Linked DNA regions of Homo sapiens: region 2 is linked to region 1. A link means that fine-mapping ties the variant in region 1 to the expression of a gene that starts in the linked region. Tissue or cell type: lung. Region 1 holds a variant in brackets; the other region holds the start of a gene. All regions are shown on one strand. Distances are between the middles of the regions.

The links. PIP is the estimated chance that this variant, and not a neighbour inherited with it, causes the effect.
Region 2: it holds the start of PMM1, and the variant in region 1 is fine-mapped to the expression of PMM1 in lung (TOPMed, PIP above 0.99).

The regions. Positions count from the first base shown.
Region 1 is chr22:41,541,100-41,549,359 of GRCh38, reverse strand. It overlaps POLR3H (RNA polymerase III subunit H), which reads left to right and starts at 4,890. Exons shown (of 6, transcript NM_001018050.4): 1 at 4,890-5,369. The coding sequence starts at 5,259. RefSeq lists silencers at 4,700-4,799, 4,990-5,119 and enhancers at 5,170-5,259, 5,270-5,369, 4,692-5,529. The variant T/C (reference allele first, on the strand shown) is at 4,492.
Region 2 is chr22:41,586,018-41,594,017 of GRCh38, reverse strand. It overlaps PMM1 (phosphomannomutase 1), which reads left to right and starts at 4,178. Exons shown (of 8, transcript NM_002676.3): 1 at 4,178-4,299; 2 at 7,825-7,942. The coding sequence starts at 4,213. RefSeq lists a silencer at 3,830-3,979 and an enhancer at 4,374-5,053.

The sequences.
Region 1 (8,260 bases):
CACCCAGGCTGGAGTGCAATGGCGCAATCTCGGCTCACTGCAACCTCTGCCTCCCAGGCTCAAGTGATTCTGCCTCAGCCTCCTGAGTAGCTGGAATTACAGGCATGCGCCACCATGCCCAGTTAATTTTGTATTTTTAGTAGAGACAGGGTTTCACCAGGTTGGCCAGGCTGGTCTCGAACTCCTGACTTCTAACGTCATGGCGGGGCACAGCCTGGTGGTCGTGATTAGGGACTCTGGGGCCTGGGTCCCAGGTTTGCCACTTACTGGCTGTATGACCTTGAATGACCTACTTAACCTCTGTTTACCTTAGATGAGGCAAAATGAGACAATTGGGCAAGTGAGATAACGATGATAGCTCCTACTGTATACAGCTGTTCTGAGGATCAAACTTAATGCATATAAAGCACCTAAGTAGTACTTGACATATAGTAAGTGCTCATGAATGTTAGCTGTTAATATAATCATAAGGCCCTCTGATCTGGATGCTGCTTAGGTCTCTAACCTCTTAGCTTACCAGTTGTCATCTCCCATGTAAATCAGCCCGAATATTATTATTTATTTCAGAGACAGAGTCTTGCTCTGTCACCCAGGCTGGAGGGCAGTGGCATGATCAAAGCTCACTGAAGCCTCAAATTCCTGGGCTCAAGCAATCCTCCCAACTAAGCCTCCCAAGTAGCTAGGACTACAGGCAAGTGCCATCACACCCAGCTAATTATTTTATTTTTTTAGTAGAGACAGTATCTCACTTTGTTACCCAGGCTGGTCTCAAACTGACCTTAAGCAATCCTCCTGCCTCGGCCTCCCAAAATGTTGGGATTATAGGCATGAGCCACTGTGCCTGGCTCCAAATACTTTTAATTACCTGAGAGTACAAACTCGCTCTTTCTCTCAGTGCCCACCCTGCTGCCCCCCAACTCCAGCACCAAGTGCTCTGAGTTGAAGCTCGGTTTGAGGCCCAGTTTTTCTTCTGCATTGCATCTCCAACAACTGTACACAACAGTATGTTGAATGAATGCACGAATGAATGAGAACAGCATCACATGTGGGTTCTGTTTTGGGCTGTTCTCACGTTGCTATAAAGAAATACCTGGGCCTGGCGTGGTGGCTCACGCCTGTAATCCCAGCACTTTGGGAGGCCGAGGCAGGCAGATCACCTGAGGTCATGAGTTTGAGACAAGCCTGGTCAACATGGTGAAACCCCGTGTCTACTAAAACTACAAAAATTAGCCAGTCGTGGTGGCATGTGCCTATACTCTCAGCCACTCAGGAGGCTGAGGCAGGAGAATCGCTTGAACTCAGGAGGCGGAGGTTGCGGTGAGCTGAGATGGCACCTCTGCACTCCAACCTGGGTGACACGCACAAAAAAAAAAAGAAAGAAAAAAGAAATACCTGGCTGGTAGTGGTGGCTCATGCCTGTAATCCCAGCACTTTGGGAGGCCGAAGCTGAGGATCACTTGAGGTCAAGAGTTTCAGACCAGCCTGGCCAACATGGCAAAACCTTGTCTCTACTGAAAGTACCAAAATTATCCAGGTGTGGTGGTGCACGCCTGTAATCCCAGCTAGTCTGGAGGCTGAGGCAGAAGAATCGCTTGAAATGGGGAGGTGGAGGTTGCAGTGAGCCCTGATAGCGCCACTGCACTCCAGCCTGGGCAACAGAGCTGGTTAATTTATAAAGAAAATAGGCTGGCTGGGCACGGTGGCTCACGCCTGTAATCCCAGCACTTTGGGAGCCCAAGGCGGGTGGATCATGAGGTGAGGAGATCGAGGCCATCCTGACTAACACGGTGAAACCTCATCTCTACTAAAAATACAAAAAACTAGCTGGGCGTGGTAGCGGGTGCCTGTAGTCCTAGCTACTTGGGAGGCTGAGGCAGGAGAATGGCATGAACCCGGGAGGTGGAGCTTGCAGTGAGCCGAGATCATGCCACTGCACTCCAGCCTGGGCGACAGAGCAAGAATCCGTCTCAAAAAAAAAAAAATAGGTTTAGTTGGCTCATGGTTCCACAGGCTTTACAGCAAGCATGGTACTGGCATAGGCTCAGCTTCCAGGGATGCCTCGGGAAGCTTCCCATGATATCGGAAATCAAAGGAGGAGCAGGCACATCACATGGGGAAAAGAGGAGCAAGAGAGAGAGTGGGAGGAGGGAGGTGCTACACACTTTTTTTTTCAAGATGGAGTTTTGCTCTTGTTGCCGAAGCTGGAGTACAATAGCGCGATCTCTGCTCACCAGAACCGCCACCTCCTGGGTTCAAGCGATTCTTCTGCCTCAGCCTTCCTGAGTAGCTGGGATTACAGGCATGCGCCACCACGCCCGGCTAATTTTGTATTTAGTAGAGACGGGGTTTCTCCATGTTGGTCAGGCTGGTCTTGAACTCCTGACCTCAGGTGATCCGCCCACCTTGGCCTCCCAAAGTGCTGGGATTACAGGCATGAGCCACACGCCTGGCCACCACACACTTTTTTTTTTTGAGACGGAGTCTCACTTTGTCGCCAGGCTGGAGTGCAGTGGTGTGATCTCAGCTCACTGCAACCTCTGCCTCCCGGGTTCAAGTGATTCTTCTGCCTCAGCCTCCCAAGTAGCTGGGACCACAGGCGCGTGCCACCACGCCCGGCTACTTTTTTTTTTTTTTTTTTTTTTTTGTATTTTTAGTAGAGACAGAGTTTCACCGTGTTAGCCAGGATAGTCTCAATCTCCTGACCTTGTGATCCACCCACCTCGGCCTCCCAAAGTGATGGGATTACAGGTGTGAACCACCACGCCTGGCCCCGCCACATACTTTTAAATGACCAGATATTGGCTAGTCACGGTGGCTCATGCCTGTAATCTCAGCACTTTGAGAGGCCAAGATGGGGGGGATCACCTGAGGTCAGGAGTTCGAAACCAGCCTGGCCAACATGGTGAAATCTTATCTAAAAATACAAAAGTTAGCTAAGTGTGGTGGTGGGCACCTGTAATTCCAGCTATTTGGGAAGCTGAGGCAGGAGAATCGCTTGAACCCAGGAGGTGGAGGTTGCATTGAGCTGAGATCATGCCACTGCACTCCAGTCTGGGCGACAGAGCAAGATTCCGTCTCAAAAGAAAAAAAAAAGAAAAGGCCTGAACCGAAGCAATAGCAGTGGGAGTGGAATGAAGAGGAAACATTTGAGAGGAAGAATTAATGGTAATCCCTAAACACCTTTACTCAATGCTTCCTAGGAATGTGTTAGGGGATTGTGGGAATAAAGAGCTGAAGTAGCATTTGCTGCTGTCCTCAAGTACCTCAAATCCTATAGAAGCACACCTAAAAATAAAATCATAGATGCAGGGAAGGCCACATTTAGCATCACTGCAGCCAGTGTCACTGAGAGATCACTATGCTTGTGAAATCAGCAAATTAAGGCACCATACATTTCCAAGTGCCTCTGTCATTTACCCCAAGTATCTTTTGTAAGTACCTAAATTGTTATTTTGGTTAAAACACACTACAAGCCCGGGCGCGGTGGCTCACACCTGTAATCCCAGCACTTTGGAAGGCTGAGGTGGGCAGATCATGAGGTCAGGAGATCGAGACCATCCTGGCTAACACGGTGAAACCTCGTCTCTACTAAAAAAAAATACGAAAAATTAGCCAGGCGTGATGGTGGGCGCCTGTAGTCTCAGCTACTCGGGAGGCTAAGGCAGGAGAATGGCGTGAACCCGAGAGGCGGAGCTTGCAGTGAGCCAAGATCGCGCCACTGCACTCCAGCCTGGGCGACAGAGCGATCCTCCGTCTCAAACAAACAAACAAACAAAAAAACCCACTACAGTATACATCTACACCCCACCAATTTTTAGAGGCAGGGTAGTGAGGTTCAGACTGGGCCCACCTCTACCACTTGTCAACACGTGATCTTGGGTAAGCTACCAAATTCTCTTAGCCCATGCTATCACGTGAAGATGAATGAGACTGGAATGTCAGCGAGACAGAGCATGATGGGGCTATAGGAGGGGGGTATGGTCAGATCTTGCAGGGCCGTGTGAACTACCATAAAGGTTTTGGACTTTTCTTCTTTCTTTCTTCTTTTCTTTCTTCTTTCCCTTTTCTTTCTTCTTTCTTCTTCTTCTTCTCCTTCTTCTTTCTTCTTCTTCCGCCTCTCCTTCTTCTTCTTTTTCGTTTAGACATGAGGTGTCACTGTCACCCATGCTAGAGTGCAGCATGCAACCTCAAACTGCAACCTCAAACTCCTGGACTCAAGCGATGCTGCTGTCTCAGGCTTCTGAGTAGGTGGGACTACGGGTGTACACCACCACGCCCGGCTTGGATCTAGTATTCTAAGTTCAATGGGTTGTGTTTTTTGTTCCAATTTATTATAACTTTTCAATTGGAACATAATGTCTACAAATAAATGCAAAAATCTTGCCGAGTTCAATTAGTTTGGACAATTATATACGTCAATGTTATACCACCGAAAACAAAATACAGAACATTTCCATCATCTCAGAACAGTCCCAAGTGCCCCTTTCCTGC[T/C]AATTCTCCTTGTCTCCGGAACACTTAAGGGTGCTAAGCATGTTATGTTTGCGGTGGGTTTTTTTTTTAACTTAGATGTGGTAATATATGTTTGCGTTTCCAAAGGATCACTCTGGCTGCCGAGCAGAGGACAGCAATGCGGGTAAAGCACAGGCCAGGCGAGGGATAATCAGGCGGGATTGCACGGAGGTCGCCTAGCAACAGAAAGCGCTGTCGGGGGCGGGGGAACCGCTCTGCTCCTGTGAAAGGAGGAGGCCCCGCCCTCTCCTCGCCCTCTCTCTGCCCCACGCTGTGCGCGAGCACACAGGCAGCCCCGCCCCGCCTCGGCGGGGTGGGGGTGGACAGAGGTTTCTTATTGGTGAGTTTTCCGGAAGCGATGGATTCGGAATCTCGCCCGCAGTCGCGCAAGCGCGAGCGGCTGTGCGCGGTGCGTGGTGCGTGGTGCGTGATACGAGCGGCGGCACGTGGCGCGGGTGCGGGGCGTGGAGTGGCGTGGCGTGGAGTGGCGTGGCGTGGCGGGGTCTCGCGGCGCGGGCGCGCACCCGGAGCTGTGGACGGAGAGTGCCTCCCTCTGGCCTCAGTTTCCTCATGTTGTAGTAGCGGAGCATGGCCCGGACCGGGCCCCCGAGACCGCCCCGTGCAACCTCACCGCCAGCCTGGGGGCCTCAGCGACTGGGACGGGACCAAGGGGCTCGGGGATTCTCCCTGCCCCCGGCCCTGGTGCGTGACTGACCCTCCTGTTCCCAGAGCCCCCAGCGCAGGCCGGGATGTTCGTCCTGGTGGAAATGGTGGACACCGTCCGGATCCCCCCTTGGCAGTTTGAGAGGAAGCTCAACGACTCCATTGCCGAGGAGCTGAACAAGAAGTTGGCCAACAAGGTACTGGGCCCACGGCTCGCGGGCAGGCCTTGGCGTGGGAGAGCGAGCGCCGCCCACTGGCCGCAGGCCCGGCCTCGGTCATGCCAAGCCCTGGCCGTGGGCAAGCAGCTTAATGTCTCAGAACTTTTCTTCACCGTGAAAGGAGATATTGAAGGGGATCAAAAGAAAATGGGCTTGAAAAAGGGAGTTGTAACTGGAAGTGTTAGATTCCACAATTCTAAATTACTTTGCAATTGCAGGCAAGTTACTGACCCCTTCTGGGCCTCAGTTTCCATTTTTAAAATGGGGATAAAATATTGCTGTCCTTCCAGCCATGCATTGTTTTTGTTGTTGTTGTTGTTTGTTTTGTTTTGTTTTGTTTTTTGTTTTTGAGACGGAGTCTTGCTCTTTCGTCCAGGCTGGAGTGCAGTGGCGCGATCTCGGCTCACTGCAACCTCCGCCTCCCGGGTTCAAGCGATTCTCCTGCCCCAGCCTCCCGAGTAGCTGGGACAACTACAGGCGCGCGCCACCACCCCCAGCTAATTTTTGTATTTTTCGTAGAGACGGGGTTTCACCATTTTGGCCAGGATGGTCTCGATCTCTTGATCCCCCCGCCTCGGCCTCCCAAAGTGCTGGGATTACAGGTGTGCGCCATCGCCTCGGGTCAATGCATTGTTTTCGTGAAGATGGAGAGTTCTAGTAGTACAGAATTAACTGTCAGGAGGTTCATCCCTTCATTCCAGCAGCCAATATTTGTGCGCCTTCTCTGTGCTGTGCCTGTGTGCCTTAGTACCAGCTGAGAGGTCTTCCCACTGCCGTTTCTTTGACAGTCCTCCCTTTCCAGGTATTCTGTGTCACATCACTCTCTTTCCTTCTTAGACTTTTTCCTTTCCCTCTCCTTGAGAGCAGGGACCTTATCTGCCTTCTTCCCTGAAGTATCCCCTCATTTAGCCAAAGCCTGGCGGGAGTAGATGTCCCATAATTTTCTGTTTTGTGTTTGTGTGTGTGAGACAAGAGTGCCGCTCTTGTCGCCCAGGCTGGGGTGCAATGAAGCGATCTTGGCTCACTGCAACCTCCACCTCCCAGGTTCAAGCTATTCTTCTGCTTCAGCCTCCTGAGTAGCTGGGATTACAGGCACCTGCCACCACACCTGGCTAATTTTTGTACTTTTAGTAGAGACGGGGTTTCACCATGTTGGCCAGGCTGGTCTCAAACTTCTGACCTCAGGTGATCTGCCTGCCTCAGCCTCCCAAAGTGCTGGAATTACAGGTGTGAGCCACCGTGCCCGGCCATTTGTTGACTGAATGAATGAAACAGAGACAAGGCTCTGTGCTATAGTGTGGTGGGAAAGCAGATATGAATGAGAAGGGTCCACAGTTGAGTGTTTGGTGACAAATTGAGGTAAATGTTATGAGGGACAGGTGTTCACACACCTGTGGAACAAAGGAACGTCCCCTGGAATGAGGGGACCTGCAGCTTTGTTGAGGAGGTGGGGTTGAAGGTGAGATCTGATGGTGAAGTGGAGCCAACCAGAGGATTCCTTTCTAGGGTGGGAGGGGGCTGGGTGGAGAGAAGAGCCCTGAAGGCAGGAACTGGCATGTGCAAAGGCCCTGTGAAGAAGGAATACAGGCCGGGCGTGGGGGCTCACACCTGTAATCCCACCACTTTGGGAGGCTGAGGCGGGTGGATCACCCAAGGTCAGGAGTTTGAGACCAGCCTGTCCAACATGGTGAAGCCCCATGTCTACTAAAAATACAAAAAATAGCTGGGCATGGTGGCAGGCACCTGTAATCCCGGCTACTTGGGAGGCAGAGGGAGAAGAATCACTTGAACCCAGGAGGCAGAGGTTGCAGTGAGCTGAAATCGCACCACTGCCTTCCAGCCTGGGTGACAAGAGTGAAACTTCGCTTCAAAAAAAAAAGAAGAAGGGGTAAAATACCCACCATGGTGTGGAAGAGGCTGGTGTGGCTTGGGCAGAGGGGAGGGTGGGCTGGACAGGTGGGTGGGGGCCAGGCCACACAGCCCTGTAGGATGTCGGAGTTGAGGTATTGGTCTTTATCCGTGGAGCATCAGAAGGTGATGGGCTGAGAAGGAGCCAGAAAGAGGATGCTTAGCTGGCTTTACGCATGAGACAGGTCCCTTCAGAAGAGGTGAGGTTGATTTGGGGGTTGCTAGATAGTGAAGGGAACTCATGGAGTCTTTAAGTGGATGGCTTCTGGTTACTTTGTGAGGTTGAAGATGAGGGTCTGTTGGGGGATGGAGGTGTGGACCTTGAGAGAGAAGGTGTGGAAAGTCCAAGAAGGGAATATAGTCCCTTTGGGGTAGAGGTCCTGTTGGGACAAGTCTTCTAGTATTTGATTAGATGAATCGTTTGAGAGGGGGCCCACACAGAAATCCATGGTCTGACAAAGGGCACAGATCTTGTGGCATTATCTTGGTGAGGTCTGGCCACGACTCTGAGTTCTCTGAGCTTCTTGCTAATTCTTGGACAGTTCTTGCAAGGGTTCTAAGTGGGGGTGATGACACGGTGGCAGATAAGGAGACACTGAGTAGCCAGTCGTTTGAACCACAGTGGTGTGGGGTGAGGGCATGGGATTTCTGCACATTCTTGGGGCCTAGGTCTTGTGTCCCTCTGCCAGCTGCAGTCCCTGTGGCTGCGTCTGTGTGTCTGAGATGTTGTGAGCACAGTGGGGTTTAGCTGTGGCTGTGACGCTCACTAAACTGTGAGCTCTGGCATTGGCTTTGGGATGTCGGAGAGTGCACGTTTAGGCAGCATTCCTGTCACTGGTCCTCACTAGTAATAACAAAGATCCTTGATGATGATGGTTTCCAATACACGAGCCAGGTACAAGGCTAGGGGCTTCACATCTGTTATCTCTCTTTATTTTATAACTCTGCAGCCTGGTATTTCA
Region 2 (8,000 bases), 45 kb before region 1:
TAGACATAAAGGTTCTCCAAGTCCCCACCAGACTCAGGAGCCCAGTTGGCTTCACCCAGTGCATCTTGTACCGGGGCTGCAGGTGGAGCTGCCTGCCAGTCCCGCGCCGTGCGCCCGTACTCCTCAACCCTTGGGTGGTCGATGGGACTGGGCGCCATGGAGCAGGGGGCGGCGCTCGCCGGGGAGGCTCTGTCTGCGCAGGAGCCCACGGCAGAGGGTAGGCTCAGGCATGGCGGGCTGCAGGTCCGATCCCTGCCCAGCGGGGAGGCAGCTAAGGCCCTGTGAGAAATCGAGCGCAGCGCCGGTGGGCCGGCACTGCTGGGGGACCCGGCGCACCCTCCACAGCTGCTGGCCCGGCTGCTAAGCCCTTCACTGCTCGGGCCGGCACGGCCTGCCGCTCTGAGTGCGGGGCCCGCCAAGCCCACGCCCACCCAGAACTCTAGCTGGCCCGCAAGCGCCGCTTGCAGCCCCGGTTCCCGCCCGTGCCTCTCCCTCCACACCTCCCCGCAAGCCGAGGGAGCCGGCGCCGGCCTCGGCCAGCCCAGAGAAGGGCTCCCACAGTGCAGCGGCGGGCTGAAGGGCTCCTCAAGCACGGCCAGAATGGGCGCCGAGGCTGAGGAGGCACCAAGAGTGAGCGAGGGCTGCTAGTACGCTGTCACCTCTCATCACCTTTCATAGTTCTATCACGTGGGGTTTATATCCTCATTACATATAAAGAAACTGAAGCCCAGTGAGGAAAGGTGACCTGTCCAAGTCCTTGTAGTTAGCCAGGACCAAACTGCAGTTCTCCTGATTCCAACTCCAATGATCTCTCCAGGACACCATAGCTACCCAGTCAGAAAAACAAGAATTGTGCCTGGGGATCTGGTGCGGTGGGTCAGGCCTGTAATCCCAACACTTTGGTCACGCCTGTAATCCCAACACTTTGGGAGGCTGAGTCGTGAGGACCATTTGAGGCCAGGAGTTTGAGAGCAGCCTGGACAAAATAGTGAGACCCTATTCTACACACACACGTGCACACGCACACAAACACAATGCAGATTTTCATGGCTTCGTAGCATTTCATCTTCTAGATGGGTCTTAGTTCATTTAAACAATTCCATATATTTTTCCTTTTTTCTATTTTCTTTTCTTTCTTTTTTTTTTGAGACGGAGTCTGCTCTGTTGCCCAGGCTGGAGTGCAGTGGCGTGATCTCGGTTCACTGCAAGCTCCGCCTCCCAGGTTCACACCATTCTCCTGCCTCAGCCTCCCAAGTAACTGGGACTATAGGCACCCGCCACCACGCCCAGCTAATTTTTTGTATTGTTAGTAGAGATGGGGTTTCACCGTGTTAGCCAGGATGGTCTCGATCTCCTGACCTCGTGATCCGCCCACCTCAGCCTTCCAAAGTGCTGGATTACAGGTGTGAACCACCGCGCTTGGCCTTTTTTTTTTTTTTTCCGAGTCAGAGTCTCGCTCTATGGCCCAGGCTGGAGTGCAGTGGTGTGATCTCGGCTCACTGCAAGCTCCGCCTCCCGGGTTCAAGGGATTCTCCTGCCTCAGCCTCCCGAGTCGCTGGGACTACAGGTGCCGCCACTACGCCTGGCTAATTTTTTGTATTTTTAGTAGAGACGGGGTTTCACCACGTTAGCCAGGATGGTCTCGATCTCTTGACCTTGTGGTCTGCCTGCCTTGGCCTCCCAAAGTGCTGGGATTACAGGCGTGAGCTACCGCGCTCAGCCTCTTTTCCTATTTTCTAAAAGTTGAATTGCTGACTCATATGATCTGCATCTTTTTTTTTTTTTTTCTTGAGACAGGGTCTCACTACTGTTACCCAGGCTGGAGTGCAGTGGGAAGATCTGGTTCGTTGCAGCCTCAGCTTCCTGGTGATTCTCCTACTTTAGCCTCCTGAGGGACCACAGGTGCCTGCCACCATGCCTGGCTAATGTTTTGTATTTTTAGTAGAGACAGCATTTTGCCATGTTGCCCAGGCTGATCTTGACCTCCTGGGTTCAAACAATCCACCCACCTTGGCCTCCCAAAGTGCTGGAATTACAGGTGTGAGCCACCGCATCCAGCTCTACAGTTATTTTTTATTTATTTAGTTAGTTAGTTAGTTAGTTAGTTTGTTTGTTTGAGGTGTAGTCTCCCTCTGTCTCCCAGGCTGGAGCGCAGTGGCATCATCTCGGCTCACTGCAACCACCGCCTTCCAGGTTCAAGTGATTCTTCCGCCTCAGCCTCCCAAGTAGCTGGGATTACAGGCTCCTGCCACCATGCCCGGCTAATTTTTGTATTTTTAGTAGAGACGGACTTTCCCCATGTTGGCCAGGCTGGTCTCAAACTCATGACCTCAGGTGATCTGCCCATCCCGGCCTCCCAAAGTGTTGGGATTACAGGCGTGAGCCACCGCGCCCAGCCTGTTACTTATTTTCATGTGAAAAGCAAACCTACAAAGCAGGTGGTGTTCATCCCATTTTATAGGTGAAGACACAAAGCCTCTGAGAGGTGAAGTGACTTGTCCAAGGTCCCATAGTGGTGGAGCTGGGAAGGCAACCTGGAAGTGACTCCAAAGTCAACGCAATGGTTAAATAATTGTGAATCGAATCTGGGAAGGTTGGCTGGGAACGGTGGCTCATGCCTGTATTCCCAGCACTTTGGGAGGCTGAGGCAGGCAGATCACCTGAGGCCAGGAGTTCGAGACCAGCCTGGCTAACATGGTGAAAATACAAAATTACTACTAAAAATAAAAAATTAGCCGAGCGTGGTAGTGGGTACAAAATAATCCCAGCTACTCGGGAGGCAGAGGTTGTGGTGAGCTGAAATCGTGCCATTGCACTCCAGCCTGGGCAACAAGAGCAAAACTCCGTCTCAGAAAAAAAAAAAAAATTAGCCGGGCGTGGTGGCGCACTTCTGTAGTTTCAGCTACTCAGGAGGCTGAGGCAGGAGAATCACTTGAACCTGGGAGGCGGAGGTTGCAGTGAGCCGAGATCATGCCACTGCACTCCAACCTGAGTAACAGAGTGAGACCCAGTCTCAAAAAATAAATAAATAAATAAATAAATCGCCCTGTGTCAAAAATAAAATAAAATAAACATAAAAGTAAGTAAAAATACAAAAATTAGGTGGGCATGGTGGCACACGCCTGCAGTCCCAGCTACTCGGGAGGCTGAGGCATGAGAACCGCTTGAACCTGGGAGGTGGAGGTTGCAGTGGGCAGAGATCCCGCCACTGCACTCCAGCCTGGGCAGAGCGAGACTCTGTCTCAAAAAAAAAAAAAAAAAAGAAGAATCTGGGAAGGTCTCCAAGCAGGTAGACCCTGAGAGCTGGGTCTTATGTGTGGACAGAAGGAATAAGGCTCGGGGAAGGCAATTTGGCAAAGTCCAAAGCCTGAACAAAGGCCTTCAGGAGATTTCTTTTCTTTTCTTTTCTTTCCTTTTTTTTTTTTTTTTTTTTTTTTGAGGCTGGAGTGCAATGGCGCGATCTCGGCTCACCGCAACCTCTGGCTTCTTTGGAATCAAGCGATTCTCCTGCCTCAGCCTCCTGAGTAGCTGAGATTACAGGCATGCGCCACCACGCCTGGCTAATTTTGTATTTTTAGTAGAGACGAGGTTTCTCCATGTTGGTCAGGCTGGTCTCGAACTCCCGACCTCCGGTGATCCGCCCGCCTCGACGTCCCAAACTGCTGGGATTACAGGCGTGAACCACCGCGCCCGGCTCAGGAGATTTCCTACAGCTCAAAATTTGTAAGGCAAAGAGATGGCCACAAACCTTGTGAGAGTGGATGGGGAGCGACCTCGGCTCTCTTAGTCCCGCCTGGCCCACTAGACACTGCACTGCATGGTAGAGGCCCCGCCCGACCCAGCCCCTTAATCGGCCTGTTGCAATCACTATCAACCCGCCAATTCTGGCCCCGCCCCTGTCTTCCGGGTTCACCCTCTCACTTCCTGCGGGTCCCAGGCTCAGGCCCCTCCTCCGCCTTGTTTGGAGCAATCCAATCGAACCTGGAGGGCTCCGCTCCGCCCTATGCCGCGCTCCCCTCCTCCACGAGCAATGAGAATCAGCTCAGGCCCCGCCCCCGCTTCCGCCCGCCTAGACCACGCCCCTTCTTCATTTGGCCAATCAGGCAGTCCACTGGCCCCCGCCCCCTAATGCCCCGCCCCGTCAGCACTTATCCCTGAGCTGCTTCTGCCGTTGCATCTTCGGGACTCCGCCCCGCGCGCGGACCTGCAGCCATGGCAGTCACCGCCCAGGCAGCCCGCAGGAAGGAGCGCGTCCTCTGCCTGTTTGACGTGGACGGGACCCTCACGCCGGCTCGCCAGGTAGGACCCTGAAGATTGGAAGCTCCCACCGGGAGTGTCACGCGGACACCCCCGAGGCTGAGTGTGGGGTCTGCAGCAGCGTGACCGTGGACACCCGGGGACCGAGTGTGGGATGCGGCGGTACCCGGCCCCCTGACATCCGGGGCCACCCACCGGGAGTGAGGGGACCTGGCCCTCACGTCACTGACCCCGCAGCGTCCTTGCCTGTGTTCTGCTTGGGAGTGCTGGGGTTGGATCCAGTACTGGAGGGAGGAGGCTGCGAGCAGGGGCCTAGCTCCCTCCCTCCCCGGAGGCTGTCACACGCCGCTAAGGCCTGGCTCACGGACGCCCCCGCCTCCTGAGCTGGGGATCCCACCCTAGTTCAGCCCTACGACACACCAGTGGTCGGAGCTGGCTTCTGAACCGGGGTTCCAGGCACACAAGCACACAGCCAAGCGTCAGTCATCATCTGGTGGGAGACAGGGCGTCTCGGAGTCTTCCCACCCCGACCTTTGCAGGCCTGGGACTGGGTCTAGTTTCTGAAGCCCCATCACCCACTTTACCTTCCACCCCCAGTCGTGGAGCAGAGAGGGCTTCTTTTCAAATTCGTTTATGAGCTCTACCCACCCGGATGTGAGAGGCTCCAGGCCTAGCCTGTTTGCTGTGAGGACACTGAGGAATAGTGAGGGTAAGAGTCTAGTTTTCTTCTAAAGACTCTCGCTGTGTTGAGCCTCTTACCTCTGCTCAGTTTTTCTCCCATTGGGTCTCATTGTGAGTGAGTCCCCAAAAGCCCCCTCACCAGCTGGATGCATCAGTAAGCAGGCTTCATTCATGCCCTCCCTGTGGGTAACCCACCCTCCAGTCTGGGGGCCTCAAGGACCAACCAACAGGTCTCCTAGCGTGGGGGAGCAGTGGGATGGGCTTTACTGGGCAGTGGCTGATGGGAACCCAGGTCTTAGCCTCCTCTCTTAGGTCCCGAATGCCCCTCCCCATCCTCTGTGGTGAAGTTGCCCTGGCTTGGGCCCTGGAGGCCTTCCTGCAGGGGTGGATCCGGGAGGAAGATAGCAGGACTGGAGCAAAGGTGGGCCATTTGCTTGTGGGTCACGCCTGTAATCCCAGCACTTTGGGAGGCCATGGTGGGCAGATCACCTGAGGTCAGGAATTCTAGATCAGTCTGGCTAACATGGTGAAACCCCGTCTCTACTAAAAATACAAAAATTAGGCTGGGTTCAGTGGCTCACGCCTGTAATCCCAGCACTTTGGGAGGCCGAGGCAGACAGATCACGATGTCAGGAGTTTAAGACCAGCCTGACCAATATCGTGAAACCCTATCTCTACTAAAAATACAAAAAATTAGCCAGGCGTGGTGGCATGCACCTGTAATCCTAGCTAGTCGGGAGGCTGAGGCAGGAGAATCACTTGAACCCGAGAGGCAGAAGTTGCAGTGAGCCGAGAATGTGCCATTGCACTACAGCCTGGGCGACAGAGGGAGACTCAGTCTCAAAACAAAACAAAACAAAAAGTAGATGGGCGTGGTGTCGTGTGCCTGTAGTCCCAGCTACTGGGGAGGCAGAGGCAGGAGAATCGATTGAACCCAGGAGGTGGAGGTTGCAGTGAGCCAAGATTGTGCCATTGCACTCCAGCCTGGGCAACAAGAGTGAAACTCCGTCTCAAACAAACAAATAAATGAATAAAAGAACTGGAACAAAAGTGGCAGGGCCTAGGCACAGTTCTGACTCCTCCCTCTGACCTTTTGCTCCACAAACATAACAACCTGAATAAGAACAGCCTATTAATTTGTCTACGGGCCAGCCTCTGTGCTTAGTGCCTTTTGAAAGTTAATTTTTAATCGTACACATTTTCATGAGCACACTCTCCTGGTAAAGAATGGAAACGTAACAGAGAAGGGTAAAGTCCACTCTGACCGCACTTGGGGAGCCTGGCCGGCTCCCCAAGTTAATGTGGTTACTGTGGTGTGGCTTCCCTCCAGGCCTTTATCTGGATCTATTTGCCCAGAGCAAATATTAAGCATTGTTTTGTGAGGCTATTTTTGTTATTGTTCTTTGGCTCCTCAAAAATCAACTTGATTGTGATGCTATTTTGTTGTTGTTGTTGTTAGAGACCGGGGTCTCACTCTGTCACTCAGTCTGGAGTGCAGTGGCGCTATCACAGCTCACTGCAGCCTCGAACTCCTGGGCTCAAGTGATTCTCCCGCCTCAGCTTCTGGAGTAGCTGGTAGCTGGGACTACAGGCAAGTGCCACCATGCCTGGCTAATATCTTTTTTTTTTTTTTTTTTTGGAGATGAAATCTCATTCTTGTCCCCCAGGCTGGAGTGCGATGGCATGATCTCGGTTCACTGCAACCTCCACCTCCCGGGTTCAAGGGATTCTCCTGCCTCAGCCTCCTGAGTAGCTGGGATTACAGGCGCTTGCCACCACGCCCAGCTAATTTTTTTTTCTTTTTTTTTTTGAGACGGAGTCTCGCTCTGTCGCCCAGGCTGGAGTGCAGTGGCGTGATCTCAGCTCACTGCAAGCTCTGCCTCCCAAGTTCACGCCATTCTCCTGCCTCAGCCCTCCCGAGTAGCTGGGACTACAGGCGCGTGCCACCACGCCCGGCTAATTTTTTTGTATTTTTTAGTAGAGACAGGGTTTCACCATGTTAGCCAGGATGGTCTCAATCCCCTGACCTTGTGATCCACCCGCCTCGGCCTCCCAAAGTGCTGGGATTACAGGCGTGAGCCACCGCGCATGGCCAATTTTTTTTTTTTTTTTTTTTTAATTTTTAGTAGAAACAGAGTTTCACCATGTTGGCCAGGCTGGTCTCGAACTCCTGACATCAAGTGATCCACCCTCCTGGGCCTCCCAAAGTGCTGGGATTACTGGTGTGAACCACCGTGCCAGCCCATGCCTGGCTAATTTTTAAAAACTTTCGGCCAGGCACGGTGGCTCACGCCTATAATCCCAGCACTTTGGGAGGCCCAGGCGGATGGATCACCTGAAGTCAGGAGTTCAAGACCAGCCTGGCCAACATGGCGAAACCCTGTCTCTACTAAAAATTTAAAACTTAGCTGGGCATGGTGGCAGGCGCCTGTAATCCCAGCTACTCGGGAGGCTGAGGCAGAAGAATCGCTTGAACCCGGGAGGCAGAGGTTGCAGTGAGCTGAGATCACGCCATCGCACTCCAGCCTGGGCAGAGGTTTCAGTGAGCCAGAATCACACCACTGCACTCCAGCCTGGATGACAGAACAAAAATTCGTCTCCAAAAAAATTTTTTTTTTCATAGAGACAATGTCTTCCTTTGCTGCCTAGGCTCTAGTCTCAAACTCCTGGGTCAAGTGATCTTTCTGCCTTGGCCTCGCAAAGTGTTGGGATTGCAGACCTGAGCCACAGTGTCCAACCTGTCTAATTTTTGGTGTCTAAGCTTTGTACTGCTTCAGATCCAGGTAGAATGTGGGCTTCCTGGGTTCTCAGCACTAAGTGAGGGCTAAGTGGAGGTCCCAGACATGTTGAAAGCCAGAATGCTATGCTTCCCCTCTCCCCCCATAGAAAATTGACCCTGAGGTGGCCGCCTTCCTGCAGAAGCTACGAAGTAGAGTGCAGATCGGTGTGGTGGGCGGCTCTGACTACTGTAAGATCGCTGAGCAGCTGGGTGACGGGGATGAAGGTAGGAGTGAGGCTGGGGGTAGAGGGAGTGGGGAGTTTGAGAGATTCCTGGGCGTCTT